7 separate regions of the Homo sapiens genome follow, and all the other regions are linked to region 2. Evidence: fine-mapped expression QTL. A gene starts in region 2. Each other region holds a variant in brackets. All regions are shown on one strand. Distances are from middle to middle. Region 1 overlaps IL17RA (interleukin 17 receptor A). Region 2 holds the start of IL17RA (interleukin 17 receptor A). Region 3 holds the start of CECR7 (cat eye syndrome chromosome region, candidate 7). Region 4 has its middle 9.9 kb from the start of HDHD5-AS1. Region 5 overlaps CECR7 (cat eye syndrome chromosome region, candidate 7). Region 6 overlaps CECR7 (cat eye syndrome chromosome region, candidate 7). Region 7 overlaps IL17RA (interleukin 17 receptor A).

The links.
Region 1: its variant is fine-mapped to the expression of IL17RA in whole blood (INTERVAL, PIP above 0.99). The same link has a PIP of 0.9 or more in esophagus mucosa.
Region 3: its variant is fine-mapped to the expression of IL17RA in anterior cingulate cortex (GTEx, PIP 0.98).
Region 4: its variant is fine-mapped to the expression of IL17RA in tibial artery (GTEx, PIP above 0.99).
Region 5: its variant is fine-mapped to the expression of IL17RA in prefrontal cortex (BrainSeq, PIP 0.95).
Region 6: its variant is fine-mapped to the expression of IL17RA in cerebellum (GTEx, PIP above 0.99).
Region 7: its variant is fine-mapped to the expression of IL17RA in whole blood (INTERVAL, PIP above 0.99).

The regions. Positions count from the first base shown.
Region 1 is chr22:17,103,848-17,107,847 of GRCh38, reverse strand. IL17RA (interleukin 17 receptor A) reads right to left here. Exons shown (of 13, transcript NM_014339.7): 9 at 3,038-3,122; 10 at 2,246-2,257; 11 at 1,894-1,995; 12 at 80-121. Among named protein-coding and RNA genes, the nearest start is that of TMEM121B, 16 kb to the left of the region's middle. RefSeq lists enhancers at 1-891, 849-1,068 and a silencer at 1,838-2,038. The variant G/C (reference allele first, on the strand shown) is at 2,155.
Region 2 is chr22:17,082,393-17,086,702 of GRCh38, reverse strand. IL17RA (interleukin 17 receptor A) reads right to left here and starts at 1,703. Exons shown (of 13, transcript NM_014339.7): 1 at 1,474-1,703. The coding sequence starts at 1,611. RefSeq lists silencers at 921-1,170, 1,211-1,310, 1,561-1,680, 1,701-1,920 and an enhancer at 2,474-2,643.
Region 3 is chr22:17,034,340-17,038,690 of GRCh38, reverse strand. CECR7 (cat eye syndrome chromosome region, candidate 7) reads right to left here and starts at 2,121. Exons shown (of 4, transcript NR_152826.1): 1 at 1,347-2,121. RefSeq lists enhancers at 590-749, 760-809 and a silencer at 2,473-2,582. The variant A/G (reference allele first, on the strand shown) is at 2,283.
Region 4 is chr22:17,167,076-17,171,426 of GRCh38, reverse strand. No RefSeq gene overlaps it. Among named protein-coding and RNA genes, the nearest start is that of HDHD5-AS1, 9.9 kb to the right of the region's middle. RefSeq lists an enhancer at 1-262. The variant A/G (reference allele first, on the strand shown) is at 2,543.
Region 5 is chr22:17,040,920-17,045,270 of GRCh38, reverse strand. It overlaps CECR7 (cat eye syndrome chromosome region, candidate 7), which reads right to left. Exons shown (of 4, transcript NR_152826.1): 2 at 271-398. Among named protein-coding and RNA genes, the nearest start is that of CECR7, 6.5 kb to the right of the region's middle. The variant T/AT (reference allele first, on the strand shown) is at 2,455.
Region 6 is chr22:17,056,348-17,060,698 of GRCh38, reverse strand. CECR7 (cat eye syndrome chromosome region, candidate 7) reads right to left here. Exons shown (of 4, transcript NR_152826.1): 4 at 629-3,182. Among named protein-coding and RNA genes, the nearest start is that of CECR7, 22 kb to the right of the region's middle. RefSeq lists enhancers at 2,170-2,670, 3,675-3,844. The variant G/C (reference allele first, on the strand shown) is at 2,609.
Region 7 is chr22:17,108,938-17,113,223 of GRCh38, reverse strand. It overlaps IL17RA (interleukin 17 receptor A), which reads right to left. Exons shown (of 13, transcript NM_014339.7): 13 at 1-4,286. The coding sequence ends at 3,404. Among named protein-coding and RNA genes, the nearest start is that of TMEM121B, 10 kb to the left of the region's middle. The variant C/A (reference allele first, on the strand shown) is at 2,141.

The DNA.
Region 1 (4,000 bases), 21 kb before region 2:
AGGCGACCCACGCACTTATCCCAGGAGAACCCTCCACTGCTTTAAAAATAAGCAAACATGCAAACCAGGAAATACTGACCGGTGTATTTGGTGTCATCACTGTATTTTTCACTTCCAGGCCCTGGAAAGGAAAAGAAATACACTGGAGTGGTTCTTTGGGAAGAGAAATAGAAACCAGCTCACAGGGTGTCTGCCCCATCCCTGACAAAGGGTGAAGGGTAAGGGGGCAGCCCCGAGACTGAGCAGCGAGGCCGTGCTAGGTGGTCGCACAGGCATGAGTCCTGGGTCTGCCACTACGAGCACTATGACCTGGAGCAGTTACTAGTGCCTCTGAAATGCAGCTTCTTCCTCTGTGAGGTGGGTCTGTATTTGCTCTTGTTTAATGGGTATTAAATGAGTGTGTGTATGTGACGTGCCTGGCACGTTGTACATAATCAATTGGGATCACAGTTATTTTGTAGCACTGATCCAGCTGGGACCCCCAGTGCCGGGGGGCAGGGGGTGGTGTCCATTCTGGTTCCTCATTACGGTCCTGGTCTGCCCTGTCTCCCTGAAATTTGGCCACCCCAAACTGACTCCACATGAGGAAAAGCTCTTCCCCAGAAGTGTCTTTACAGAAGACATGCATCTTACCACACTTCTTTCCAGAAGCAGCCCCACCAGGCTGCTTGCAACATTTCCTCCTGGTATTTTTGAGGTGAGGAAGGGGAACCCACATACTTAAGCAATTGTTCCCCTCAGAGATGTGATGAAAAAACTGCTCTGCGGGGGTTAACTCCTTAGTGACAGCTGGGAGGATTGAGATCCACAGATGACTGAGCAAACGACTTAGAACCTTAATCTCAATCCTAACCCTTTCAGCTCTTCCCCAGAACTGTCACAAGACAGCCAAATAACAGCGAGGCTCCTCTTGCCTTCACCCTGTGGTGCAGGACACTTCGGAAAACAGAAGCGCAACAGCAGAAAGGAAACCAAAAGCGCCGCCGCCGCCCAGCCCCAAACCTTTAGAGAGCTGCACCGCCTGTGGAGCACTGGCCGAGATGCTACTGAATGTTATTGGAACCTCCCATAGGTCCTCCCATGCCTGGCTGGTTTTCTTTCTACCACATAATAATTAATAATGATTAACACCTAATCCTGACGAGCCTAGGGAAGGGTGGAAACAGCTTCCCAGATGACGGAAGGAGCAGCCTAGGGTCATGGTGGGGCAGGCAAGGGCTGAAGCCCCAACCGGAAGGCCTGTGTTCTCCCGGCTTAGGACTTGGCCAGCAGAGGGCTGCAGGTGGGAGAAGACACTGGTATGTACTAATCCCCACCAGCAAGCACCTTCCTCAGCTACTCATTTAACCTTCGTCACACCCTTAGAGGGAGGCATTATCAGTACATTTTACAGAAAAGTGAATCCATGGTGTATTAAGTAACTGGCCTGTGACTACAAGGCTAATGAGGTGGGGCTGGGGTCCACCCCTGTGGCTCAGGGCAGCCGGAGCCTTCTCTATCACCCGATGCTGACCCTCACTATTCTCCCTGACCCCAGGCGTCCACGTCTGGCGGCTGCAGGATGGGGTTGTTCAGGCTGCTCCACCTGCCTGGATGATCATTCCTGACACAGGGAAACTTTACTCCGGCTCCTTCCAAACTATTGATTTTAATAATACTACATTTGATAACAACAAATATAATCGTGGCTAACAGATACTGTGCAAATAGCACATGCCAGGTTCTGTGCTAAGAATTCATGTGTCTTATTTCACTCAGTCCTTACAACAGCTTTATGACGTGGTTCTCAAGCAAGAAGCTGAGGCTCTGAGAATAAAGCGATTTGCCTTGGTAGTGAGTGGTGGTGCTGGTATTAGAGCCTGACTCCAGGACAGCCAGAGCCCCAGCGCTTACCAGCTAGCCTCCAGGTCATGCAGACGATGAGCAGGATGACGGAGCCCACCAGCAGGATGGAGATGCCCGTGATGAACCAGTACACCCACAGGGGCATGTAGTCTGCGGTGAGCAGAACAGCGTGAGTGATGCGGCGGGGCCTGCCCTGCCCACCCTGAGGCCCCCAGCCCTGCTCCCCAGCCCCAGGCTCTGTCCTCTCTGGCCCCACCACGACAAACCATGGTCTCACCCCCCACCCCGGGCTGGCCTCGGTTCAGCCTT[G/C]TCTGCCTGGCTGAGGCAGGGACTTCTCAAGTGGCCACTGGGGAATGTCCCCTGAGGGCTGCAGTGCTGTCGGAGAGAGATCCAAGCTTACCCGGAATTGGTTCTGCAATGAGAACAGAGGAAAAAGGGAAAATAGCATTCTTAACCCTTCCCAGTCATCACAAGAAACACAACTGACGTCCCTTGAGGGCTTTAATGATGTTGGCCCTGCACCAGGCACTCTAGATCCAGGTTGAACTTAATGAAACCATCTACAAGAGACACTTGAGTTGCTGGTCTAAGAAGAGACACCTTGCCTCCTCCTTGGGAGGCTGGGTTCTCCTTCCAGCCTGGCTCCATGCCTGCGCCTTGCCTTCTGGTGAGCACGTGGCTGCAGCCTCCCGTGCATTAGGGCATGCGACTTTTGAAAACAGCGTCCCTGCTGTGTGATCTTGGACAAGTTATTCAACATCTCTGTGCCTCAGTTTCCTTATCCAGGAACCTGGGGTTTGGGGTGGGGGGATCCTCTACTGCATAGTACCGTGACTCACAATGAGTGAGGATGAAAAAATGGACGGCATGTTGGAGCACTGCGCTCAGTGCATGGCACAGAACTAGGGCTCTAGGATAAAAACCACCTCATTTTCCAGTCAAGGAAGTTGAGAATCAAAAAGATTAAGTAATTTGCCTAAGGCTACATAGCTAATGAAAGACAGCCAGGAGTCCAGCCCCAGGGAGTGACACTCTAAAGCCCCACTCCACACTTCAGGCCTGAAGGACTCCAAGTTAAACTAAACTCTCCTCCCTAATCACCCCTCAGAACCAGGTAAGGACGCAGCACAGGCTGGGGGCCTTCAGCCACTTGTTCTCCCAGTATGGCCTAGGACAGCCGCATGTCCCCTACCTGGAGTGTCTGGCATTTCTGGGCAGGAAACAGTCGCGGAGTGTCTGAGGCAGTCATTGAGGCAGCTGCTGAAGAAGGGCTGGATCTGCGGGCAGAGAGGGCAGGAAAAGGGCTCCAGAACTGTAGAGCGCCCATGCCTTCCAGCCAGCAGCGGCAATGTGAGAGGAGGGGATCCTGGCTGGCTACACCACGATCTCCAGGTGACCATCATCTCCCTCCAGCAAGGGCGGGTCAGCGAACCCCTGCCCAGGTGAGGGTGGGAGAACCAGACAGGAGAAAGGCAGGGGCAGTGCCTTACCAGGCAAGGAATCCTGACTGGTAGTGGTGCTTGGTGCCACAGAGAGGACAAGCTTTCCCCTGTCCACCAGCAAGAATGCCAGACTGTGCACGCTCCCCACTCCCGTCCACACCACACTCTCCACCTGTGCACGCTCCCCACTCCCAGCCACACCACTCTCTCCACCTGTGCACGCTCCCCACTCCCAGCCACACCACTCTCTCCACCTGTGCACGCTCCCCACTCCAGCCACACCACACTCTCCACCTGTGCACGCTCCCCACTCCCAGCCACACCACACTCTCCACCTGTGCACGCTCCCCACTCCCAGCCACACCACTCTCTCCACCTGTGCACGCTCCCCACTCCCAGCCACACCACTCTCTCCACCTGTGCACGCTCCCCACTCCCAGCCACACCTCTCCACCTGTGCACGCTCCCCACTCCCAGCCACACCACTCTCCCCACCTGTGCACGCTCCCCACTCCCAGCCACACCACACTCTCCACCTGTGCACGCTCCCCACTCCCAGCCACACCACTCTCTCCACCTGTGCACGCTCCCCACTCCCAGCCACACCACACTCTCCACCTGTGCACGCTCCCCACTCTCAGCCACACCACTCTCTCCACCTGTGCACGCTCCCCACTCCCAGCCACACCACTCTCTCCACCTGTGCACGTTCC
Region 2 (4,310 bases):
AATTCCGTACACTTAGCAGTTGTGCAAGCAGCTTTGCTAGACAGTTCCCTAACTTCAAGCCTTGTTCCTCCCGTAGATGGGTTAGGTCTCTGGATATTAGGGTCCCCAGAGTATTTATTTATAGTTCCAGTTCCCAGTATGGCGCCCTGTACTCTGCAGGCACCTGACCAATGGCTGTCAACCCAGGCGCACCAACCCTCCATATCAGAACGCTTCATACACAGCCTGCAGGAGGGACTAGCAGGGCAGAGGGACCTGCTTTGCCCAATAGTGGAAGTCACAGGACATTTCTCAACATCATTCACGATAAAAACATCTTTTTTTTTTTTTCTGCGACATAGTCACTCACCCTCCACCTTCTTTCGGTAAATCCTCCATAAAACTACATAAGGAGAAATATCCCTTTGTTTTACATCCTCTGACTCAGATACTGAGCATTATTCCTTGGGGTCAGCGGTGGAGGTGGAGGTGGAGGTGGAGGGGAGGAAAGATCCCCTCGGGGATGCGGGGAAGAGGAGAGTATATTGTGGAGGGGCACGGCGTTTTGCTCTTTTTTTGTTTTTTTCCTTAAGATGGTCCTGGCTCACAGAAAGGCCACTACCCGGCAGGCGGGTGGGTCACTTCCTGTGGGCGCAGCGGGGCTACGACTTGACAGCTACAAACGTTCGACCCTCCGACTGCGCTCTCACCGGGTTCCCAGACCCAGGTGGTGGTAGTCGGGGGTGGGAGTGGCGGGAAGGGCGCCGTCTTAAGAACCATCTGCCCATCCTCAGGGCTTCGCGCCTCTGGGGAGGTGGCCCTCAGCCGCCCTCGGCAGAGCTCTCCCCGAAACATGGTGCCGCGTCTCAGCGCTCCGGCCCCCGCGTGGCTCTACGACAGCGGGGTCCCTCTGGGGGCCGCGGGTGAGGGACTCCACCTTCCGCACGGACGACGTGGGCTCGCCCGGCTCCGTCGGCGGCATGAAGGGCACGGCTTGAGGGAAGCTCCCGAGGGCGCGATGGGCCTCCCGAGGGCCGACCGTGCCCCGCCGGGGTACGTGAGGGGCGCAAGGCGTGGAGCTGGGTCCAGACCCGTCCTGGCTCCTCCCCGGGCCCCTTCTCCACAGCCCCTTTCTATCAGCCCTGGCCGCCCCTCCGGCCTGGCCCAGCGCCGCGCCCTCCTTCCCCGAACTCCGCGGCCCGGGCGGAGGTGTCACTCCCGCCTCCAGTCACGACGGCGGGCCAGGTTGTGCAACACGCGCCGCGCGATGTGCCACCCACCCCCCCCGTATTCCACACCGCAACTCCCACCGCTCCGAGGGTCCTCCCCAGGCGCCGCGATATCTGTGCCCAAGGCTCTGAGCCCCTCTAAGCCCGCGGCGCGGACTTCCTGCCTCCCCAGCCCGGGCGCGTAGTCCCGACCGTCCGGCCCTCCGCGACCTTGCCCCGCGTCCGCAGCATCCTGGCGGCTACCGCTCCCCACGTCGAGTCTCACCGGCTGGGAGCAGACCAGCGCCCGGTGGTCCAGGAGTCGCAGGGAGGCGCCACCCGGGGCCAGCACGCCCAGGAGCAGCAGGAGCAGCCCCAGCAGGGGCCCCGGGACAGCGGACGGCGGGCTGCGTGCGGCCCCCATGGCCCGGCTGGCGTCGCGGAGGGCTCGGCCCCGGCTGGGGACGCAGCGAACGAACGTTCTGAGGCTTTCTTTTCCGCGGTGGAGTTCGAGTCGGCTCCACTTTGCTCGCTTCCGGCTTCCAGCCCGGGCCCAGGGGCGGGCCGGGCCGAGGGGAGGAGTTTAGTCTGGGACGGGGAGGGGTTTAGGGTGAGACAGGGCCCTCCCCCCGTTCCTCCTTGCGCCCCTCCTCTCGGCCCTACGCTCAGTCCTCCGGGCGTCCCTACCCAGTCCTTCCGGCGTCCCTCCCCGGCCCTCCTCCGCCCGCGCGCCCCAGGTGCGCTCCTCCCGCTGCTCCTGGGCCTGGCCCGTCGCGCCTCCAGTTGCACCCGCGTCGGGCTAGCGTCAACTCCAGCTGGAGCCTCGCCTGCCCCACATGCACCCTCCACCCTGGCCGTGCCGCAGCAACTGTCGATTTTAATCCTCCGCCCCCACTCACTTGATTCTTGGCCCTGTTCAGACTTCTTGCTTCTCTTGTGGGTCACTGGACGTGAAATCCCAACTTGGGATTTCAGGAAGTCCGTTTTCTTAGTCTCTGTCCCTTTTATTTTTGTTTTTTATTTTACTTTATTTTTAGACAGGGTCTCCCTCTGTCTCCCAGGCTGGAGTGCAGTGGTGCAACCGCAGCTCACTGCAGCTTCGGCCTCCCGGGCTCAAGCGATCCTCCTGCCTCTGCCTCCTGAGTAGATGGAAGCGCGGGCCATATCCCATTTTATTGTCCCCACCCCTTTGCCTGGTTCTGCTCGCTCTGCTTTCCTTGGCTTTGCTTTCTCTTTCTCAAGACAAGGACAGCTCCGGGCTCCAGGGAGGATGGGACAGCAGTCACTTCCAGCCTCCTGGCTCGGACTCGGGGACACTTGAGTTCCTGGAGGGCAGGCAACTTACCTGGTCTGTGAGACTGTGTCCCAGCCGCACCTAAGAGAGTCGTTACTTCCCAGAGGCTCACTCCACGGCCGCGGAAGCTGTCGCCAGCGAATTACACATTTCATGAGTCTCCTTCTTAGCACGCGTGCAGCCTGCGTCCTCTCCTCTCCGGACCCTGGAGGACCCTCCCAAGCCGGCCCGCGCTGCCTCTATCCTAGGTTCCTGCTTCGAGCCCGTCCTGCCCTAGTGCATCCACACGCTCCTGCCCATTCGCCTCTCCTCTCTTCCTCCCAAGACCACCACCGTCCGCTTTTCCTTGCCTATCAAGTGCGCCTCTGCCTGGCCTTGACACGCACGGAGTCTACACTCAAGTGGCTTTTCCCTGTATTTTCCACTGCCCTCGAGAGGTGGGTTTTTTCGCTGCCCGAAGCACCCGCTGACCCCCAGCGACATCTCTATGAGCCCCGCCCGCAGACACGACCCAGCTGAATGAAGCCTGAAGCTCAGTGGCCTTCAAATTGTCTGTTTCTAAAAGAATTTTGGAAAACTGCATCCTCTCATGCATTTTAAAGATGACATCTAAAATTCTCCATCCTAAGTCTAAATAGATGTAGAGGATGTAACTGTTACTTAAAAATCAGCGGTTGTCGTAGGCAGCTTCTAAGATGTGTTCTAGGATCCCACCCCCTGGGAGTCACGACCTTCTGAATCCTCCTCGCGGAGTGTGGGATGGACCCAGAGGCTTGGTTCTAACAATAGAATATGAATAGAAGAAGACAAAAATGATGGGATGTCACTTACAAGATTAAGTTACAAAAAGATCCTGACTTCTGTCTTGCCCAGCCCCTCCCTCTGAGCTCCTAGCTCTTAGGGAAGCCATGCTGGGGCCCAAGTGGCAGAGAATGAGAAAGGCCTCTGCCCAGTGCAAGACACTGAGATCTTCATTTCATCATTGCCATTATTAGTACATAATTGATAAAAAATAATGTAAATATAATACATGTTAATAAGTAATTAAACATGAATTACTTGAAATTCATTTTATTCCTAATTAGTTGATGTATCTGTGAACAAATATTGCTTATTCATAGAACAAAGCAACATTCAGCATTTAAGAAATATTTTATTTTTCTTCTTTTTTTTTTTTTCTTTTTGAGATGGAGTCTTGCTCTGTCATCCAGGCCGGAGTGCAGTGGCGTGATCTCGGCTCACTGCAAGCTCCGCCTCCCGGGTTCAGTCCATTCTCCTGCCTCAGCCTCCCGAGTAGCTGGGACTACAGGCACCTGCCACCACGCCCGGCTAATTTTTTGTATTTTTAGTAGAGACGGGGTTTCACCGTGTTAGCCAGGATGGTCTTGATCTCCTGACCTCATGATCCGCCCGCCTCGGCCTCCCAAAGTGCTAGGATTACAGGCGTGAGCCACCATTTTTCTTCTTTTTAAAACATTGAGACAGGGTCTCACTATGTTACCCAGGCTGGTCTTGAATTCCTGGGCTCAAGTCATCCTCCTGCCTCAGCTTCCCAAAGTACTAGGATTACAGGCACGAGCTACCACCCCAGGCTAAAAATATTTTAGATGTAAGCCTTAAAAAATTGCTTACATAAATAATTATATTTGTCTCATCAATTCTTTGAACCCGTTTTCAGTCATATGCAAAGATCACATAGCCATCTTGTCACCTTTTTTTTTTTTTAAATAGGGTCTCACTAAACGGCCCAGGCTAGACTCAAACTCCAGGGCTCAAGAGGTCCTCTCATCTCAGCCTCCCAAGTAGCTGGGATTACAGGTTTGCACCAC
Region 3 (4,351 bases), 48 kb after region 2:
ATTGCATCTTAGGTACTCAGGCTTTTAAAAATCATCTTACATTTTGAAATATAATACAACTGCTCTGGTAACAAAAATATTTTAAAACAATTCTTATAGAAAACTAATACCTTAGATAATTGTGAAGAAAAACCTCATTGACAATTAAATGCTTTGTTACTGATGCATATTTTCTAATATGGGTGACCACAATGACACGCATAAAACGCAAAAAAAAAAAAACAACATATGGGACTACATCAACGTGAAAAGTTTCTGCATAGCAAAGAAAACTACTTTCCAAATAAAAAAGCATCCTATAGATTACGCAAAAATTTCAGGCAATCATGTAATTCACGAGGAGTTGTCAACTAACGTGTACACAAAAAACACTACAAAGTAGAAAAAGAATCCAATCTAATATTTCGCAAAGAACCTGAACGGACAATTCTGCACAGATATAAAATCGAACAACAGATAAGAGATAAGGTCCTCAAAATTAACTATTCATTAGAATACTGTAATTCAAAACCACACGCAGATAATCTCACAGTTATTGAATATTCCTAGAAAAAATTTTTCAAAATAAGAGGGGCTGGGAGCCGTGGCTCACGCCTGTAATCCCAGCACTTTGGGAGGCCGAGGCGGGCGGATCACCTGAGGTCACGAGTTTCAGACCAGCCTGACAAATATCGTGAAACCCCGTCTCTACTAAAAATAAAAATACAAAAATTAGCCAGGCGTGGTGGCGGGCGCCTGTAGTCCCAGCTACACAGGAGGCTGAGACAGGAGAATTGCTTGAAACCGGGAGGTGGAGGTTGCAGTGAGCCGAGATGGCGCCACTGCCCTCCAGCCTTGGAGACAGAGCGAGACTCCGTCTCAAAAAAACAAAAACAAATTGGAATGGGGGTTTGGTTTTGGAGAAAGGGGAACTCATACACTGTAGGTGGAAATGAAAATTAGGGTACACACCATGGAAAACAGCTAAATAGCTGGAAACTCCTCAAAGAACTGAAACTACAGATGTCCCCTGCTCTAGCGAGGTCTCTTTCTAAAGGTCCCGAGGCATAAAAAATAACCCTAGGCCCCAGCTCAGAGGCCCGTGGGGCTCGGAGGGACCCAGTCCAGCGCTTCACCGCCGCCTCTGGGCCAGGGCGCTCCTATAGGCTGGACGCGGGTCGGACAGGGGCATAGCCTTCCCGGCGGGGGTGTGGACGCTGCCGAGGCCAGGATCCCACAACCGCCCCGACGCTGACGACTCGGGCCCAGATGCCCACTTAGAAGTCAGGGCCCGAAAGCAGGGAGCGGCCGAGAAGGAGTAGGGAGACCCAGAGGGTTCCAGGTGGGGTTCATCCCCCTCCACTTACCGCCGAGGCCTGCCACCTCCTCCACCAACAAACGGAAGCCACCACATCTTCTCCGAGACTCGCTCTGACCACGCCGCCGATGCTGCCCGGGCCTCGCACGAAGCGCAGTCTCGGCTTCCGTCGGGGCCTGCATGCTGGCAGCGTCCCTGGCGCCAGGCTGAAGCACCACCCCCTCTTAAAGGGGCCGCGGCTGGGACTGGGCAGAAGCAGCTTCGGGTTGCACAGGCTGAGCGTCTGCCCAGCCCCAGGGGTGGACGAAAGGCCCCCAGTCTCTCATCCTCCCGGGCTCTAGGGCCCTAGAGGTCGCAGAAGCGCCTCCTGTGACCCCAGCCCCTAAATCGGCTCCCTTTGCCTGAGGAGCGCCCGGGACCTGCCCCTGCCCTCCTCGGGACCTCAGCTTCACCATCCGCAAAGAAAGCGGCCTGGCTGGAGCTCTGGGGTCCCTCAAGCTCGGCGCCTCAGGATCCAGGGTGGGCTCCCCTGCCCCTCTGCAGAGGGGGCCCAATAACCACGGAAAGCTGGGGGCTGGAGGGACAGTCCCGAGGGCAGCAGGGCGTCCTTGGCCTCACCGTCTACATTCGTCCTGTGGGAGCCCGGGGGCGTCGCTAGGGCCCAGACTCCTGCGGCCTCACCAGGGCTGCCTGGGTCACCGGGCTCCCCAGGAGGCAGGCAGGGGCCCTAGGGTCCAGCGCTGCCCCCACCTCAACTCCATTCTGCGTCAGCATCCGCGAGGGGGTCCTGCGGACTGGACCCAGACCCACTCCTTCCCGGGGAGCGGGACCGGTATCGGTCTCTGTGACACCCACGGGAGGGGCCGTGCTGACCTCTCCCGGGGATCTGGGGGCGGGGTGGGGGAATCTCGGCCACCTCTTGAAGCTCGCTGAGCCCCCCACCCCAGAGAGCGCGCAGGAGCAAAGGAAAGGACGGAGAGCCCAC[A/G]CATTTTCAATCTTTCATTTCCGTTTTTTCTTTTTTCCCCCCTCCAAAATGAAAGACATGTGTAGCTTTGTCCCCTGTACACGATCCATTCCCCAGGGCCGCTGTGCGGATCCAGCCCGCTGGTTGCCTCTAGGGTCCGCATGCGGCCCGGGGCCTGCCCAGGTGAGGTCTGCGGCCGCCACAGCGCTGAGGTCCCGCCTGGCCGGGGAGCACGAGCCGCTGGGGATGCTGGCTGCGAGGCTCCCGGGAGGTGGAGCGGGAGGTTGCCCCAGGCCCTGGCTGCAGAGCTCTTGATGTCACGCCTGGCACCCTCCGTCCACCGCCTCGGGGCAGCGCTTCAGAGCCCCGGCAGAGGCAAGAAGTCGATCACTTCGTTCTTCATTCGTTGGAAAAATTTAAAAGCACATTATAATCCCTGGAACAACCACGTCAGAGATAGAGCAAAAAATTAAAATAGGATTGTAAATGACACACTGAAATAAGTTTATTTTAAAAATGGTAGTCAATGGAAAAACAGGATCAGAAGACAGGAGAGACAGGGAAAACAAATAAGTTATCTGACTGAAACAGAATTAGAAACTAACAACAGTAAGAAATATTGGACATCTGAAAATATGTGAAAATTTAACAACCCACCTCTAAATCATTGGATCAAAAAAAAATCACAAGATAAATTGGAAAATATTTTGAGCTGCACTCCAGTTTGGGTAACAGACTGAGACCCTGTTTCTAAGAAAACAAAACAAACTTCAAAAAGCTATAAAATTAAATGCCAACTTTCCCCTTTACCCAAACTCTCTGTGGCTCTCCTTTGCCCTCAGAGTCAAGCCCATGCTTCTCACTGTGGGCTCCAGGAGCTAGGTGGCCTGACCAGTGCACACCCTATCACCATCTCCTCCTCTGCCCACTTGATCACGCTGTCCAGTCACACACACTCTTTATTTTTCCAAATGCCAAGCTCCTGATCACCGCTGGGCCTTTGCCACCGCAGTTCTGCCTGCCAGGACCAGTCTTTCCCTAGACCTTCCCATTCCTGCCTCTTCCTGGCTTGGCTGCCTCTTTCCGGTGCTTCAGGTCTCAGATCAAATGTCACCTCTTCAGAGAGGATTTCCTTGAAATCTCTGCCTAACACAGCCTGTATCAAGGTCAACACTTTTCTCTTTTTAGACTTACGTTTTGATATAAAGAAGTTTCATAAAAATGACTTGGGCAGCTATCATCTGTTTAAAAGGTCTGACTTTGTTGAAATAATTTGGGCTTTCCTGTTCTTTGAGTTTTGATAAAACAACTGTAAAATCATCTGCCTTTTTTTAAAAAAATTGAGATTGATGCATACTTTCTGTTATTACTATTTTTTTTACATTCTGTCTCCCAGGCTGGAACACAGTTGCTCATAGCTCATTGCAGCCTCAAATTACCTTGCCTTTGTAACAGTAGGTCCTCAGTCACCTTTCTCATCTACAGATGTTGGTTTACTTAAGCTTTCTAATTACTTGGAGGTCAGCTTAGCTCAGTGGTTAGCACAAGTTGCTAATAAATGCTCAAGTATGAGGGTGCAAAGAAAGGGGTAGGGAGGTGCAAGACTCTTGGCTTCAAATGCCCAGTCCCCTACTCATCTGCTCAGGCCCCTGTCTAGCCTCTGCATCTAAGCCAAACTACACGCCTCCTCCCCTGAGAAGCCCTCTTGGATTTCTCCTGTCCTGTCTTCCCTGCTCTATCCTCCGATGAGTGGATCCACCCATCTGCCTCTGTGCTGGGCAGATGCCACTGCTCTCTGCTTTCTGGCTGGACAAGGCAAGGGGGCAGGTGTGTGTGTAGAAGTCCCCCTAAACCTTGGCCTTTGCCTCATGCCTGGCACATTCAACCTTTGCTGACACCTCCGCAGAAATACCAACCTCACCAACATCTGCAGAATGGGCCGCCAGGGTCTGTCTGGAGCTTGGGTGGGATTTTCACTTGACTACAAATACACACACACACCCTAGGCTTCCGGGTCTGCATTCCTTGGCTGGCTCTTCACACTTGAGTCCAAGACAGGTCAATGGTTAGTGGCTGGATTTGCAAGCATG
Region 4 (4,351 bases), 85 kb before region 2:
CTGTCCGCAGGGTCCCCTCCCGGCCTCAAGCCCCTGCCAGGCAGCATCGGCCGCTGGTGACCTTGGGTCATCCTGGCCTCTATGCATTTAGAGTAGACGCCGGGTGGTGGCGGCGCCTGTAGTCCCGCATTCTGGGAGGCCCAGGCGGGGCGCTAGAGCCCAGGAGTTCTAGACCAGCCTGGGGAAAACAGCGAGACTCTGTCTCTTCAAAACAAAACAAAAACAAACAAACAAAAAAGGGTAGAGCCCATAGTACAGGATGAGAGAGTAGTGCCGTAATGAATTTTAAATTTTAATTACATTTAAAATTAAAATGAATCTATATACAATCACATTTCAAAAATTCAAAAAGTATGAAAAGGAACACATTCGAAAGGCTTCTATCCACCTCTGTTTTCCACTGTCCTCTTTCCCATCCCACCCATTCTCCCACCAGGCTTAGTTTCTTGTGTTTCTTTATGCAAAATAAACAAAAGCAAATATATATATTTTTTCCTGCTCTCATATAAAAGGCAGCACAGTATCCACACTGTTCTGAACTCTTTTTTTTTTTTTTTGAGACAGGGTCTCACTCTGTTCCCCAGACTGGAGTGCAGTGGCACAATCTCAACTCACTGCAGCCTCCACCTCCTGGGTTCAGGCTATTCTCCTGCCTCATCTGGACCACAGGCGCACACCACCATGCCCGGCTAATTTTGTATTATTATTTTTTTCGAGATGGAGTCTTGCTCTGTCGCCCACAGATGGAGTGCAATGGTGCGATCTCGGCTCACTGCAACCCCTGCCTCCCGGGTTCAAGCAATTATCCTGCCTCAGCCCCCCGAGTAGCTGGGATTACAGGTGTGCGCCACCACACCTGGCTAATTTTTGTATTTTTAGTAGGGACGGGGTTTCACCATGTTGACTAGGCTGGTCTTGAACTCCTGACCTCATGATCTGCCCACCTCGGCCTCCCAAAGTGCTGGGATTACAGGCGTGAGCCACCACGCCCTCCCTAATTTTTTTATTTTTATTTTTTATTTTTTTGAGATGAAGTCTTTGCTCTTGTCACCCAGGCTGGAGTGCAATGGCACCATCTTGGCTCACTGCAACCTCTGCCTTCCAGGTTCAAGCAATTCTCCTGCCTCAGCCTCCCAAGTAGCTGGGATTACAAATGCACACCACCACGCCCGGCTAATTTTTGTATTTTTAGTAGGCCAGGCTGGTCTCGAACTCCTGACCTCAGGTGATCCAGCCACCTCCCAAAGTGCTGGGATTATAGGCATGAGCCAACGTGCCCAGCGAATTTTTGTATTTTAGTAGAGACGGGGTCTCACCATGTTGTCCAGGCTGGTCTTGAACTCCTGACCTCAAGTGATCTGCCTGCCTCAGCCTCCCAAAGTGCCGGGATTACAGGCCTGAGCCACTGCGCCCCGCCTGGATCTCAAGTCTTGATAAGATTTAGGATTGATTCTTTCAGCAGGACTACTTAACAGGTGGTGTGCCTTCCAATTTGCATCCCAACCGTATTAGGGTTCTCCAGAGAGACAGAACCTATAGCATGCAGGTAGGTAGGTAGGTAGATAGATAGATAGATAGATAGATAGATAGATAGATAGATAGATAGATAGATAGAGATAGGAGACAGACAGATAGATGAGAAGGGATTTATTAGGTGAATTGGCTCCACGTGATTATGGAGGCCTGAGAAGTCCTACGACAGGCCGCCTGGAGACCTGGGGCTGCTGGGAGCATGGCTCAGTTCAAATCTGAAAGCCTCTGAACCAGGGGAGCTGAAGGTGTGACTCAGTCTGAGACTGAAGGCCTGAGAACCTGGGGGGCTGCTGGTGCAAGTCCCAGCATCTAAAGGTCAAGACCCTTAGACTTCTGATGTCCAAGGGCAGGAGAAGAAGGCTGTCCCAGCTCCAGGAGAGAGACAGCAAATTTGCCCTTCCTCTGCCTTTTTGTCCTACCGAGGCTCCCAGCTGATTGGATGGTACCCTCCCATATTGACAGGGCGTCTTCCCCACTCAGCCTACCAACTCATACGCCAGTCTCCTCTGGAAGCAGCCTCACAAGACACTGCTTTACCAGCTATCTAGGTGTCCCTCAATCCAGTCAAGTTGACTCCAAAAAGTAACCATCAAATACAATGAAGTGCAGCCAGTCAAAGGCTGGGACCCATCCATGGCTGGAGCCACAGGGGCAGCAGCCAGTGGGGTCACTTGGAGTCAGGGCATGGGGAGACAGCATCAGGCAGTGGCTCCATCTGCTCAGCCCACCCGTAAGCCTGGGCTCTGGAGGGCAACTGACTCCCCCAGGAGCCTTCCCTCTGCCTATCCCTGGAGTTCCCTCCCCTCCTATGGGAGTCTGGGGGCCTTCAGGAGCTGATCCCCTTGCCTGCATGCCAGTCTCCCTAGGAAGGATCTTGCAGAATGAGCCCAGGTTCAGCTCAGAGACTCTCTGGTGCCAGCTGCCCCTTCTCAGGGTCGGTGGCAGGAGAGTGTGAGGGCTGAGCTAAGTGCATCAATGCCCCGTTTGCCCCTAGGATTCGGAAGAGGCC[A/G]TGGCAGGAGCTGTATTTGGAGGGTCCAGGCACTGCCCTGACTGGGAAGTGCAGTGCAGCCTAGGGATGGGCCAGGGAGCTCACAATGACAAGAGGGCAGAGAGCAGGGAGTCTATCTGCCCTCCTGGGGAACAGCCACCAGGTACCAAGCAGGGAGGCTAGCAGCCCAGCCCAGGGACTTGCGTGGACTTCGCATGCTTCCCACATGCTTAGAACTCTGTCAGGGGCCAGGCACGCTGGCTCCAGCCTGTAATCCCAGCAGTTTGGGAGGCCAAAGCAGGTGGATCACCTGAGGTTAGGAGTTCAAGACCAGCTTGGCCAACTTGGTGAAACCCCATCTCTACAAAAATTAGCCAGGCATGATGGTGGGAGACTGTAATCCCAGCTACTCCAGAGGCTGAAGGGGGAGAATCACTTGAACCCGGGAGGCGGAGGTTGCTCTGAGGCGAGATTGTGCCATTGCACTCCAGCCTGGGCAACAGAGTGAGACTCCGTCTCAAAAAAAAAACAGAACAAAACAAAACACAAAACAAACAAAAAAAGAACTCTGTCAGACTGGGTGCAGTGGTTCATACTCTTGTAATCCCAGCACTTTGGGAAGCCAAGGCGGGTGGATTGCTTGTGCTCAGGAGTTTGAGACCAGCTTGGGCAACACGTCGAAACCCCATATCTGCCAAAAAATACAAAATTTAGCTGGGTGTGGTGGGGAGGCTGAGGTAGGAGGATTGCTTGAGCCCAGGAGGTCGGGGCTGCAGTGAGTCGAGACTGAGTGACTGCACTCCAGCCTGGGCAACAGAAGGAGACCCAGTCTCTAAAAAAAAAAAAAAAGAAAGAAAGAAAAAGAAAAGAAAAAGAACTCTGTCTACTGATGTTTCTGATGTTTCCTTCCTCCCTCCTCTTCATCTCTGTTGGGTTTTAAAATTTCCTTGATCAAGCTTCTCTTGCCTTTCCTTTTCTTTCTTTCTTTCTAGCTTCTCCTTTCTCCTATTCCCTCCTCTCCTCTCCTTTTTATTGCCCCTTTCCCACAAGAAACCAGCCTGTCTTCAACGTGGATACAGTGGACTGGGCAGAAGGAGCCAGCCTGGCGCAACTGGCCCTGGGGGCAACTCAGAGCCTGAATCTCTAGTGCTCTCTCCTCTGCCTGCACTTGGAGCCATGACCCAGCCTGACCCTCCACAGGGACCGTGCCAAGGGCTCTGTCCCTTGCCAGCATTTCAGGCGCTTTGGGCCAGCTGGCCTCTTTTGGGCCAGAGTTCCCTGGAGCAAGTGACGATGGGCGGGGAGAGGATGGTACTGACACAGGAAGGGAACAGGGGGACATGGCAAAGGCAGAAGCTGGGCAGGACTGGGGATGGGAGCACCCCATCAGGAGCACTGGGCTGAGGAGCGGTGTCTGTTTGGCCAGGAAGCTCCCTGAGTTACTTTTTCCTTTTTTTTTTTCTGTTGAGACGGAGTCTCACTCTGTTGCCCAGGCTGGAGTGCAGTGGCGCGACCTCGGCTCACTGCAAGCTCCACCTCCCGGGTTCACACCATTCTCCTGCCTCAGCCTCCCGAGTAGTTGGGACTACAGGTGCCTGCCACCACGCCCGGCTAATTTTTTGTATTTTTAGTAGAGACGGGGTTTCACCGTGTTAGCCAGGATGGTCTCGATCTCCTGACCTTGTGATCTGCCCGCCTCGGCCTCCCAAAGTGCTGGGATTACAGGCGTGAGCCACCGTGCCCGGCCTCCCTGAGTTACTTTCTTCTATACATGGGTCAGGATGTTGGAAGGTCACCCTTCCACCCCTGCCCCCCAGCTATGGCAAGGAG
Region 5 (4,351 bases), 41 kb after region 2:
CCTTCTCAGTCTCATTCCAAGGCCCTTCTCTAAATTGCACAGTGTCTTATTATGTCTTCAAGACACTCTTGAATTTCATTTTGATTGATTCTTCTGTATGCAGGGGTTAGGGAGGTGCACCAAAACCTGGGATCAGGGCATTGTAGACATGGCTCTATTCAAATTGGGCTGAGGGTCCTGTCACCAATGCATGAAAGACTGTCTGGGCAAGCAAGATCCCAGGAGGCATATGAGGATGACAACAGCCAGCCTGGCATCAGTCACACCTACCCAGAGGCATTGATAGTGTCATGACTCCTCCCCAGGAACCAGATGTAGCCCTCTTCATCCACAGTTGCTCTGTCCCCGGTGTCGCAGACGTCCCCACATTCCACTTCGGCTGTGTTCTCTGGGTTACCCTACAAAGGGGAGAGAACTTCTTTGTTGAAGGCAGTGAATTTAGAGATGATGAGCCACAACCTCGGGTTCCAATCTGGGTTTCAATTCTGCCTCTGGTTCTACCTGGTACCTGGGCAAATTTTGCCATCTCTCTGAGTCTATTTTCATTACACGTAGGCACACGATGCATGCTACTGTTCTATGAGTGGTCGTGATTATACCAATTTCAATGACAAATTAAAAAATATCAATTCGCTTTTATGTGACACTATACTAGAATAAAATTTCTATTATAGTGTGAACTTTGTTCCCTGCTGTAAGCTCAGCATTCACACAGTGTCTGGACAGATGAGAGGGGTCAATAAACATTTGCTGAGTGAATTTTCTTCCCTAAATACTATCTCATTTGATCCTCACAGAGAGCCTATGAGGGTGGTATTTTTAAAGTTAACTTTTCATTTTAAGATAATTGTGGACTTGCATGCAGTTATAAAAAATAATACAGATTGATGCCCCTGTACTCTTTAGTAGTTTTCCATAGTGGCAACATCTTGCAAACTATAGTTCAGTATCTCAGCCAGAATCCTGATGTTGATACAATCCACCAATCTTCAGATCTCCCGTTTCACTTGTACCTGTGTGTGTGTATGGGTGTATTTATTTTTATGCAGTTTTATCACATATATAGGTTTGTGCATTCACCAGCACATCAGGAAGATCTCTGATGTTGCTCTTTTATAACCATATCCACCTCCTTTTTCTTCTCTTTTCCTCTCCTCTCCCCATCCCTAACCCCTTGCTAACAACTACTCTGTTCTCTATTTTTATAATTTTGTTGTTTCAAGCGTGTTATATAAATATAATTTAATAGTGTACAACTGTTTGGGATTGTTGGTTTTTTTTAGCATAATTCTCTAGAGACTCATCCAAGTTGTGTGCATCAATGGTTTGATCCTTTTTATTGCAGAACAGTATTCCATGTTGTGGGTGTACCTCAGTTTTTGTTTAACCATTTACCTACTGAAAGGCATCTCTAGGCCTTTCAAAACCTGGGTTGTCTCCAGGTTTTGGTTATTTTGAGTAAAGCTGCTATGTACATTTGCATACATGTTTTTGTGTGAAGCTGGCACTTTTTTGTAGCCCATTTTAAATAAGAAAAACTTCATGCTCAGAGAGGCACATTCACTTCCTCAAAGTCACTCAGCTGCTCACTGAGAGGGTTGGTATTTAAATTTAATTCTTGCTTCACAACCTATTCACTTGAACCATAAGCAATATCTCTTGTGGAACATGAAATGGTTTTAAGAGCTATCTGAAAAATCATTTTAAAAACATTGAATCACCTCCCTTTTTGGATTCACTTCCAATTATTCTGAGTATATCAGGTTGACTCTTAGTTTAGTGCTGACATGCTTTGAACTCTCTGGAAGTCCCAAGAGGAAGATACACTTCAGGATCAGAGCTTTCAATGGGAATAGGATTTAGGTAGAATATGAGAAAATTGTTTGTTTTTTTAAAAAAACCTATAGTTATAATTGCCTTCTGTTTATGGCAAGTAATACTGTTTTCCACTTGTGATACTAGATCAACGTGAGTGCCTTTGTGGACTAAGTTGGTAGGCACAAGATTACATCAACAATATAAATGGAAGACTGTACATGAGTAGAGTTTTTTTTTGTTTGTTTGTTGTTTTTTGAGACAGAGTCTCACTCTGTCACCCAGGCTGGAGTGCAGTGGTGAGATCTTGGTTCACTGAAACCTGGGTTCAATCCTGGGTTCAATCCTGGTTTCAAGTGATTCTCCTGCCCCAGCCTCCTGAGTAGCGGGGATTACAGGCGCATGCCACCACGCCTGGCTAATTTTTGTATTTTTAATAGCAATGGGGTTTCACCATGTTGGCCAGGCTGGTCTTGAGCCCTTGACCTCAGGTGATTCGCCCACCTTGGCCTCCCAAAGTGCTGGGATTATAGGTATAAGCCACCATAAGTTTTTGTATGCAATTGAAGTTAAGTAGGTATTAATTCAAATTAGATTGTTACAACCTTAGGATGTTGTATGTAATATTCATAGTAACTA[T/AT]GAAGAAAATATTTATAGAATATAAACAAAAGGAAATGAGAGGGGAACAAAATATGTCACTACAAAAAACAAACAAACAAAAAAACAGAATACTAAACATAGGCCAGTTGCAGTGGCTCACGCCTGTAATCCTAGCACTTTGGGAGGCCGAGGCGGGCAGATCACCAGAGGTTGAGAGTTCGAGATCAGCCTGGCTAACAGGTGAAACCCTGTTTCTACTAAATACATAAAATTAGCTGGGTATGGTACTGTGCGTCTGTAATCCCAGCTACTTGGGAGGCTGAGGCAGGAGAATCACTTGAACGCAGGAGGCGGAGATTGCAGTGAGCTGGGATCGTGCCACTGCACTCTAGCCTGGGTGACAGAGTGAGACTTGGTCTTGGGGAAAAAAAAGAAACTAAACATAAAAGAAGGCAGTTATAAAGGAAATGAGGGCCAGAAAATATTAAGCCATACGAAAGACAAATAACAAAATGGCAGAGGTCCTTTCTTATCAATAGTTAAGTGGAGTAAACTCTCCAGTCCAAAGGCAGGAATTGGCTAAATGAATAATAAAACATGATCCAAATATGCACTGTCTACAAGAGCCTCATTTTAGATTTAAAGACATGAATAGGTTGAAAGTTAGAGGTTGCAAAATATATTCCCCACAAATAGTAACCAAAAGAGAGCTTGGGTTGTTATACTAATATCAGACAAAATAAACTTTACGTCAAAAACAATTGCAAAAGATAAAGAAGGATATTATATATTAATAGAAGGGTCAGTTCATCAAGGAAATATAATAATCATAAACATATATGCAATAAACTTCAGAGCTCCAAAATACATGAAGCAAACATTGACAGAATTTCAGGAAGAAATATACAGTTCTACAAAATAGTTGGAGACTTTAATACGGCACTTTTTTTTTTTTTTTTTGAGACAAAGTCTTGCTCTGTCATCCAGGCTGGAGTGCGATGGTGTCATCTTGGCTCACTGCAACCTCTGCCTCCCAGGTTCAAGTGATTCTCCTGCCTCAGCCTCCTAAGTAGCTGGGATTACAGGTGCCTGCCACCATGTCTGGCTATTTTTTTTGTATTTTTAGTAGAGATAGAGTTTTGCCTTGTTGGCCAGGCTGGTCTTGAACTCCTGATATCAGGTGATCCACCCACCTTGGCCTCCCAAAGCGCTAGGATTACAGGTGTGAGCCACTGAGCCCGGCTCTAATATGCCACTTTTAACAGTGAGTAGAAAAACTAGACTGAAGATCCCCAAGAAAATAAAGAACTTGAACAACATCATAAACCAATTGGACTTAGCAGACATATATAGAACACTCCATCCAATGGCAGAAGAACACACATTTTTCTCAAGTGCACATGGAACATTCTCAAGGATGGACCATATATTAGGCCAGAGGAGAAGAATTAATCAACTTTAAAAGACAGAAATTATATAAGGCATATATCCAGTCATATGAAATGAATTAACAGAAGAAAACTTTTTAAAAAATCACAAATTTTTCCAATGTTTGAAAAATTAGACCAGGTATGGTGGCTCACACCTGTAATCCCAGCACTTTGGGAGGCCGAGGCAGGCAGATCACTTGAGGTTGGGAGTTCGGGACCAGCCTGGCCAACATGGTGAAACCCCGTCTCTATTAAAAATACAAAAATTAGCTGGGCATGGTGGCAGGCACCTGTAATCCCAGCTACTTGGGAGGCTGAGGCAGGAGAATTGCTTGAACCTGGGAGTCAGAGGGAGGTTGCAGTGAGCAGAAATCGCACCACTGCCCTCCAGCCTGGGTGACAGAGTGATACCCTGTCTCAAAAAGAAAAAAAAAAAAAAGAAAAATTAAACGACATACTCGTAACTAACCAATGGATCAAAAAAGAAATCACAAGGGAAGTTAGAA
Region 6 (4,351 bases), 26 kb after region 2:
CATGCAGGTCTAATTTTCTGCATCGTGCAAAGACAGTCCCTTTTGCTTCTTTTGTGTACTCTCTTTGCATTTGTTCCATAGACACCTGATGTTTATACAATGCCCTGTGCAATAGAGATGGAGGATTCAATGGTGAATGACAGGTGATTTTTCTCTGCAGGTGGCTATCTTAGCCACTCCAAGACTTTAACTATCTCTGTGAACATCAATCACAAATCTCCAGCTACAGACTCAAGCTCCTTCCCCAAATCTATTTCCTATATTAGGGGTTAGGCAACCTTTGCAAACGTTAAGATGCAGACGGTTAGACCTGCAGCCCCAAGAGGAGCTGAGGTAATGCTTCTCTTTGCCAGGAGGGGTGCATGACATCACCTGACCCATTGAAGCAGTGGGCACCGTGGGGGTCAGGGGATGCTAACAGGCACAGCTGGCCCTCCTCACCCATGGATTTCACATCTGTGGGTTCTGGATTCAACTGGGGATTCAACCACCTGGGGTAAAAATATTTGAAAAATATTGTGGCTTTACTGTGAAGGGGTGGTCTGCCCCTCCCTAGAAATACCTGTGGGTATTTCTAGTCGGGTGGGATGAGGGACTGAGAAAAGAAATAAGACACAGGGACAAAGTATAGAGAAACAACAGTGGGTCCAGGGGACCAGTATTCAGCACACCAAGGACCTGCACTGGCACCGGCCTTTGAGTTCCCTCAGTTTTTATTGACTATTATTTTCATTATTTCAGCAAAAAGGAATGTAGTAGGACAGCAGGGTGATAATAAGGAGAAGGTCAGCAAAAAACATGTGAGCAAAAGAATCTGTGTCATGATTAAGTTCAAGGGAAGGTACTATGCCCGGATGTGCATGTAGGCCAGATTTATGTTTCTCTCCACCCAAACATCTCAGCGGAGTAAAGAATAACAAGGCAGCATTGCTGCAAACATGTCTCGCCTCCCACCATAGGGCGGTTTTTCTCCTATCTCAGAATTGAACAAATGTACAATCGGGTTTTATACCGAGACATTCAGTTCCCAGGGGCAGGCAGGAGACAGTGGCCTTCCTCTATCTCAACTGCAAGAGGCTTTCCTCTTTTACTAATCCACCTCAGCACAGACCCTTTATGGGTGTCGGGCTGGGGCACAGTCAGGTCTTTCTCATCCCACGAGGCCATATTTCAGACTATCACATGGGGAGAAACCTTGGACAATACCCCACTTTCAAGGGCAGAGGTCCCTGCGGCTTTCCGCAGTGCACTGTGCTCCTGTTTTATTGAGACTAGAGAATGGCGATGACCTTTACCAAGTATACTGCTTGTAAACATTTTGTTAACAAGGCATATCCTGCACAGCCCTAGATCCCTTAAACCTTGATTTTATACAACACATATTTTTGTGAGCTCCAGGTTGGGTCAAAGTGGCTAAGGCAAAGTGGCTGGGGCAAAGCTACAAATTAACAACATCTCAGCAAAGCAACTGTTTAAAGTACAGGTCTTTTTCAAAATGGAATCTCTTATGTCTTCCCTTTCTACATAGACACAGTGACAGTCTGATCTCTCTTTCTTTTTCCTACGTACTGAACATGTACAAAATTTTCTTCTTGTCATTATTCCCTAGACAACTACTGACACAGCATTTACATTGAATTAGGTATCAGAAGTAATCTAGAGCTGATTGAAAGTGCATGCAGTGTGTACATAGGTTGTCTGCAAATGCTGCGCTGTTCTCTATCAGGGGCTTGGGCACCTGCAATGTTGGTATCTTCAAGGGAGGTTCCTGGAACCAATCCCCTACGGATACCGAGGAATGACAGTATTTGGGTTTTGATAGAAAGCTGAGAAACCCAGAACAGAGATAACCTCCTAGCAGTAGAAAGCTGAGTTAAAATCAGGAGAAGGCAGTGGCTAAATTCACAGTCATTTTACACACAAGAGCAAAACACATGTTTTACAACAATGGAGGAAAAACTCAGTGATCGCCCACTGAAGTGAATAAAAGTTACAGTGATAGTTACAACAACACAGCAATAGGGTATACTGAGAAGGAAGATGTCCTTCAAGAGTTTAGGGTTTTGTTGGGGGAGCCAGAGCCTCTCTCAGGATGCACCCTCCTTTGGAAGCACTGACTTGGCCCCTGGGCCCATGACATGGGAATAGCATGTGAGCCGGCCGAGTCCCAGCAACCCCTCAATTCAGTTTGTCTCCTTAGACAGCATCCACCTCCCCAATCCTCCATCAGCTCCTTTTCCAGTTTCCCCCATCCTGCACTTGTGCAAGGCAGGGAGGGAGTTGTCTGTGCTTAGGACAATTCCTCACATTGCCAGGAGAGGGCAGCAGATCACTCTCCCATCCCAGTTGCTGCCTTGGCGCTGTCCAGGATTCCAGTCATTTTTCAAGGGTTATTGAGAGCTTATGGAATAGGAGACCATTCCAGCCTCAGTTTCGGCCAGGCACTGGGAATGCAAAGCCGACTGAGATATGGGGTCCCGCTCTGCAGGAGCCCGTGGTCTAAGAAGGCAAGGCAGCCATGGAAACAGAAACAGGTCTAAAGAGTGGGGTGAGGCACTGGGGCAGAAGGCTCTTCAGGGGACTGTGGGGTCCCCATGAGGTGGCGAGA[G/C]GGGGGGCATCGGAAAACACCCAGCAGGAAGAGGTGCTAGAGCTGAGTCTTGGAAGCAGGTAAGTTTTCCCAGTTCCTAGGCCAGGCAAGGCACCCCAGGCAGAGGAGCTGGGCCTCCCGTGACACCACAGGGCGGGCTTGGGCTCAAACACAGGGTGCTGGGGCAGGAGGAACATCTCAGGGAGGGGAGGATCATGGAGGGCTGTCCTCCCTGGCCATGCTAAGGAATCTGTACCAGGACCCAAAGGGAACCGGGAAGCCACTGAAGGGTTTAGGAGAAGGACCAAAGCAGACCTGCACTTTTACATGACAGCTTCCTGTTCTGCCTGTGGAGGATGGACATGGCAGGATGGAGAAGGGAAGGCCTGAAGGCCACTGGCCAGGTCAGCTTGGCTTGAACTGGGTAGGAGAGCGACGGTGGTGGTCTGAACTAAGGCAGGAGCAGTGGGAGTGGAAAGCGGGGTGGGCGTGAGGTTGAAATGACAGGTCTTTGGCTGGATGGGGGCTGGGCCGGATGAGGGCAGAGGTCTTTCAACTTTCTGGCTTTAGTGGCTGGAGTGAGTGCTGGTGGCAGCTGATGAGACAAAGAACACAGGGGAGGAAGACATCTCTGGAGAAAGACTATGAGTCGTTGACAAATATGGGGCATCACCCAGTCCCCCATTTCATTCCCACTATACCCCCTAATCTAGATCCTTGCTATTTTTCATCAGTTCTGAAATACTGGCTTCTTGTTGGGTCTCACAAGGTCCAGTCTCTCTGTTGGAGGTGCCTGGGAATTCTATATTTCAATACGTGCTTATGAACAACCTGTCTGGGGCAGGCACTGTGATGAGTTCCTTCTCCTACAGAGCTTATGGCCTAGTGCAGAGCGAAGGTAGTGAAGGAAGAGACAGACGGTGAAGCTCATGGTTGAAGTCCAGTGTGCAGCACGGTCTCATGAGTCTTCGAACAGGCTGCAAGGAGAGCATTCCAGGTGGGGCCTGCGATCTGGACTTCGGAGTGTCGAGGAGGTTTCCTAAAGGAATGCCATCTGGGCTCAACTGGATGTGCAGGGGCTCCCTGGTGAGGGGGTCGGGTGGCAGCAGGCCAGGGCTGGGGAGAGGGGCTCCTGTGGGGCTGGAAGGGGTGGGTGCAGTGCCTGACCCTGTGGCGGAGGACATGAGAAGCAGGCAGCCTCCACTTGAGAGGACACTGGGGGTGGTCAGCAAGGATAACAGTGGCAGGGCCTGATAGGGTTAGCTTGCACCAAGCTGAGTGGGGAATGAGTTGTGCCAGGCCTCCTGTGGGTGGATGGATCCTCAGGCTTGGAGGGGTGTCCTTCTGAAGGAGACTTCCTAGTCTCTGACAGATTTGGGAATCTGTCAGATTCCCTCTCTCTGGGAAGAGGCTACAAACTCTAGGCTGGGCATGGGCAAACTGCAGCCAAGTTTTGTTTTACCAGAACACGGCCATGCTTCTTCACGGATGTGTTGTCCATTGTTGCTTTAGTGAGTTGAGTAGTTGCAAGAGACCACATGTTCTGCAAAGCCTCAAACATTTCCTAACTGGCTCTTCATGGAAAAGGTTTGCTAACCCCTGCTATAAACTGGCAGGCAGCTTTCTTGAATAGAGTTCAGGCCTGGTCTGCATGTGCTGAGACAGTGAGCCCATATCCTAAAGTTGGATCTCCCAAAATGCACGTCCGTCTCAGGTCTTATGAATCTGTGAGTCACTGAGCATGTGAAAATGCATATGGTCATG
Region 7 (4,286 bases), 27 kb before region 2:
CCCTGACTTAAAAACAAACAAAAAACCAAAACACAACAAAAGCAAGAAAGAAGTATATCCATCATACCCTTGCATTCAGAGATCCCAGCTCAAACTGCTGAATGGATGTTTCAGAGACCGAACACCACCCTTTTTAGACCCTAAACACCTTCAAGGACCTTCCTATGCAGAAAAGAGAAACTGGTTTTGAATCAAAGTAATTATTCCTTAAAAAAAAAAAAAACAAAAAAAAAACTAGGATCAAGATAGTAGGCAGGAAAAAGTCATGAAACTCTACGCGGGAGTTGGGAGCTTGTTGGTGGCTGCGTGCATAATCGGCCTGGACACAGGCATGGTTAGATGCTCCGCTGCTTCTTTCCCAACCGGAACCACCTCTGCACACTCAGGAGACGAGCTGAAGAGGTGGGAGGGGCACAGCGTGGAGGGCACCTGTTCTTAGAGAGACATTTCTTGGTGAAACAATTTATTAGCCATGGTTCAGAATAATACAAAAATAAAGGTGTGGCTTTATTTACACACACTCTTGAAGCTCTTGGCATTCAGCGGACAGCAAACACCATACTCAGAGTGATGGAATTAATAGCATTTAGGGTAAGCAAGGACCAGTGTGAGACTGGGCCCAGGAAATGGGGAGGGAATGTGAGGAGAAACAGGGAATGACATTAAAGAAGAAACAGACACCTTGGAGAATTTATGACTCCTTTCTCTATGTCATGTCCAGAAGAGGCAAGTCTACAGAGATCAAAGTAGCCTAGGGGTGCCTAGGGATGGGGAGGTTGGGGTGGTGACTAAGGGGGGCTGGATTTCTTTTGGGGGTAGTAAACTCTAAGACTGACTGTGCTGATGGCTGCTGAACTGTGACTATACTAAACCGGCATCAAATTGTGCAGGGTCAATTGTGGATTGTATGGTAAGTGAACTGTACTCCAATAAAGCTGTTAGGAGGACAAAGGCAGCTGCCCTGGAGATAGTAGGCAATGCCCATCAGGACATTTACTGGCATGGGCTCAAAGGCCAGCAGAGCTAGAATTCAAGGTTCCTGAGGAATGGGAGCAGATGGGAACATGTGCTCTACGCAGGAAGAGTGCATTGTGGTATCCTGTACTCTGGGCGTCAAACAGTTATTTATTGGAAGCTAGGGAAAGGTCACAGAATGCATGGTAGGTGTCCAGACCCAACGAAGCCCCTCTCCAGGATTATTGGAGAGACTGAGCCCAAAAGGCTAGTGGCTGGGAGGCTTCTGCTCCTGTTCTCCTTTGCCTGGTCCTTTGCTGCTGTTGGGTGGATTATGGGCCATACACCATCTGGGACACAGAGCTTTGGTGGCCCTGCTACCACTAGGTAAAGTCTAACTGCAAGAAAAAACTCCGCAACTAGCAACTTCTTGACCTACAGTAAGTGGCTCGACCTTCCTGCTAGAAACTCTTACCAGATCAACAAATTTATGCACTTTTATTGATAATCTTTCACGCACATGTATGTGTGCGCACACACACATGCAAACTGTCCTGTTTGCTCTCCTGTCACATTTCCGAATCTTCTCCTCCTCACTGGAGGTTGGAAATATAGTTAAGGACTCAGGCATAGGAATGAAGGGCACCCTATTCCAGTGTCAGACGGCACCTCAATGTGTTCTTCAGGACCCTGAAGCCAGAAGCCTCTAGCCTACCCCCAGGAGGTACTTCAGGAACAAATTCTTCAAACACTGGCTTCAGAGCCTCTTTTCAAATGCTGTCTTTGGACCTCAGACCCTGAAGTCACAGCAGCACCCCTTCCCCACACAAGGTCTGCCCAGATCTTCACTGACCCACCACCCCTCATTTCCTTGCCCTTGCACCCTGGGGCTTCCTGAGCTCAGGGGAGCTCCAGCCCAGCTGCTCTGAAGAATCCTACGTGCTAACAGCTCCCCACTGATAGTCGGAACGCGGGTGCAGGGCTTCAGACTCACCTTCCTGCCAGATGCTTTTACGTTTCACCTCGACATTTCTCTCTTCCTATAAATGAACTCAGGTGACATCCAGCTGTGTTTAGCCCTCAGCCTCTCTCCATGCAGAGGCTCATCAGACGAAAGGTGCCCCAGGCCTCAGGACTGATGCGCACAAGGCTGTCCCCACCCCTGAGCTCTGGCGACATCCCCCCA[C/A]CCCCCACCCCGATCTCTCTCACTGCCTCCCTCCTTCCCCTCCAGGCTCCACCAGCAGCTCCCTGACAAGCTCACTCCACTCACCTCCCAGCACTTACCCACAAACTGCTTCCTTGCTGGGACTACGCTTTCCCCAACCACAATCCTTCAGCTCAGGCATCTCCTCGGGGATCCCCCCTGACCTGGGTGCCTTTCCCGTGCATGCTCACAACCCTGGGCAGGCTTCCACTCCATCTTTCTACTTTTTTATTTTTTTTGAGACAGGGTCTCACTCTGCTGCCCAGGCTGGATTGCAATGGTACCATTATAGCTCACTGCAGCCTCTACCTCCTGGGCTCAAGTGATCATCTGGCATCAGCCTCCCGAGTAGCTGGGACTACAGGCATGTGCCACCATGACTGACTAAAAAAAAATTTAGGTAGAGATGAGGTCTCACTATGTCGCCCAGGCTGGTCTTGAACTCCTGAGCTCAAGCAATCCACCTGCCTCGCCTTCCCAAAGTGCTGGGATTACAAGCATGAGCCACTGCACCTGGCCCATTCAGCGTTTACATCCCGCGTGACCATCTTTTTTTTTTTTTTTTTTTGAGATAGAGTCTCGCTCTGTCATCCAGGCTGCAGTGCAATGGCACAATCTCGGCTCACTGCAACCTCTGCCTCCCAGATTCAAGCAATTCTCCTGCCTCAGCCTCCCAAGTAGCTAGGACTACAGGCATGTGTCACCATGCCCGGCTAATTTTTCTATTTTTAGTGGAGATGGGGTTTCACCATGTTGGCCAGGCTGGCTCAAACTCCTGACCTCAGAGTGATCCACCTGCCTCGGCCTCCCAGTGTGCTGGGATTACAGGCGTGAGCCACCGTGCCCGGCCCATCCTGTTCGTTTAACGTGTCCTCGGCACTAGCGGTTAAGTTCCTTCATGGCTGGGGCCATGCCGCATGCAATTTATCTTGGTATCCCAAATGCCCGCCACATAGTAGGTGCACAATAAATGCTGAATGAACGAATAATGGAGCCTCAAGGACGCTCTACCATTAGCTCCTGGGAGCGGGCTGTGTGGATTCCCCTGGGGATAGACGATAACCAGACCGCTGCACAAAGAAAAGTTAGGAGGGATGCCTGGGATTAAAATCCAGACATTTACATTTTAAAGCCTACATTTCACACACGAACATATACACATGCAGACATGTACACACAGATGAATACGTGCACACACACTCCTCTCTCAAAGCTGGGATCTGGGCGGTCCCTGGGGAGCCGCCCTCATGCACTGGGCCCCTCTGACTCTGACCCCATCGTGTCCCAGCCCGAGTTCTTCTGCAGCTGGCGGAAAAGCAGCTGCCGCTGGAGGCTCCTCAGGCTCTCCAGGTCCTCGGGAGAGAGTGGCAGGGCCGGCTTCCCTGGGTCCTGCTCCTCTTCCTCCTCTTCCTCCATTTCCGTGAGTCCCTCGGGGGGCTGCGGGGAGCTCCTGGAGATGTAGCCCTGGTCAGACTGCACTGACTGCCGCTGCTCCTCCTCGTAGGGCGTGTGTGGGTCTGTGAGGACCATGGCGGGTCTACTGCAGCCCCCCTGGGCCTGGCAGCTCAGACTCTGCTCGAAGAGCGAGAGCATCAAGCCTTCGAGGTGCTCCCTCACGTCCTCTGGAAGGAGGTCAGGAGACGCCATGGGGGTGCTGCTGCCAAGGGGCGAGTCCTCGGGGTCCACGGGGAGGAAGAGGACGCTATTTCGCCCAGCGCCCGGGCTGCCCAGCAGCGGGCAGGCCTCGCCCTCCCCCGCCAGTGCCAGCCGGACTGCGGCACCGTCAGCCAGGGGCCCAGGCTCCACCGCGGCCACCAGGGCCCCCTCCTCTGCGGCGAGCACCAGGGTGTGGAGGGGCTGCGGCGCTGGCTGACCCCGGGGCTGCAGGTGAGGTTCCAGCTTTGCCACTGCTGCTCCTCCTTCCTCCCCGACCAGCGGGTCTATGGCCAGGCAGGCCTGGGAGCCAGGCTCGCGCACCAGGGGCGCCCGCTTCACGATGCCGGTTCCCGGAGGCAGCAGTGGCTCCTCAAACACCTCTTCGTCCAGGGACGGGGCATCCTGGTCATCTGCTGAGTAGAGGTTCTCACATTCGAACCAGTCGGGACAGCGGACCTGCCAGTCCCGGAAC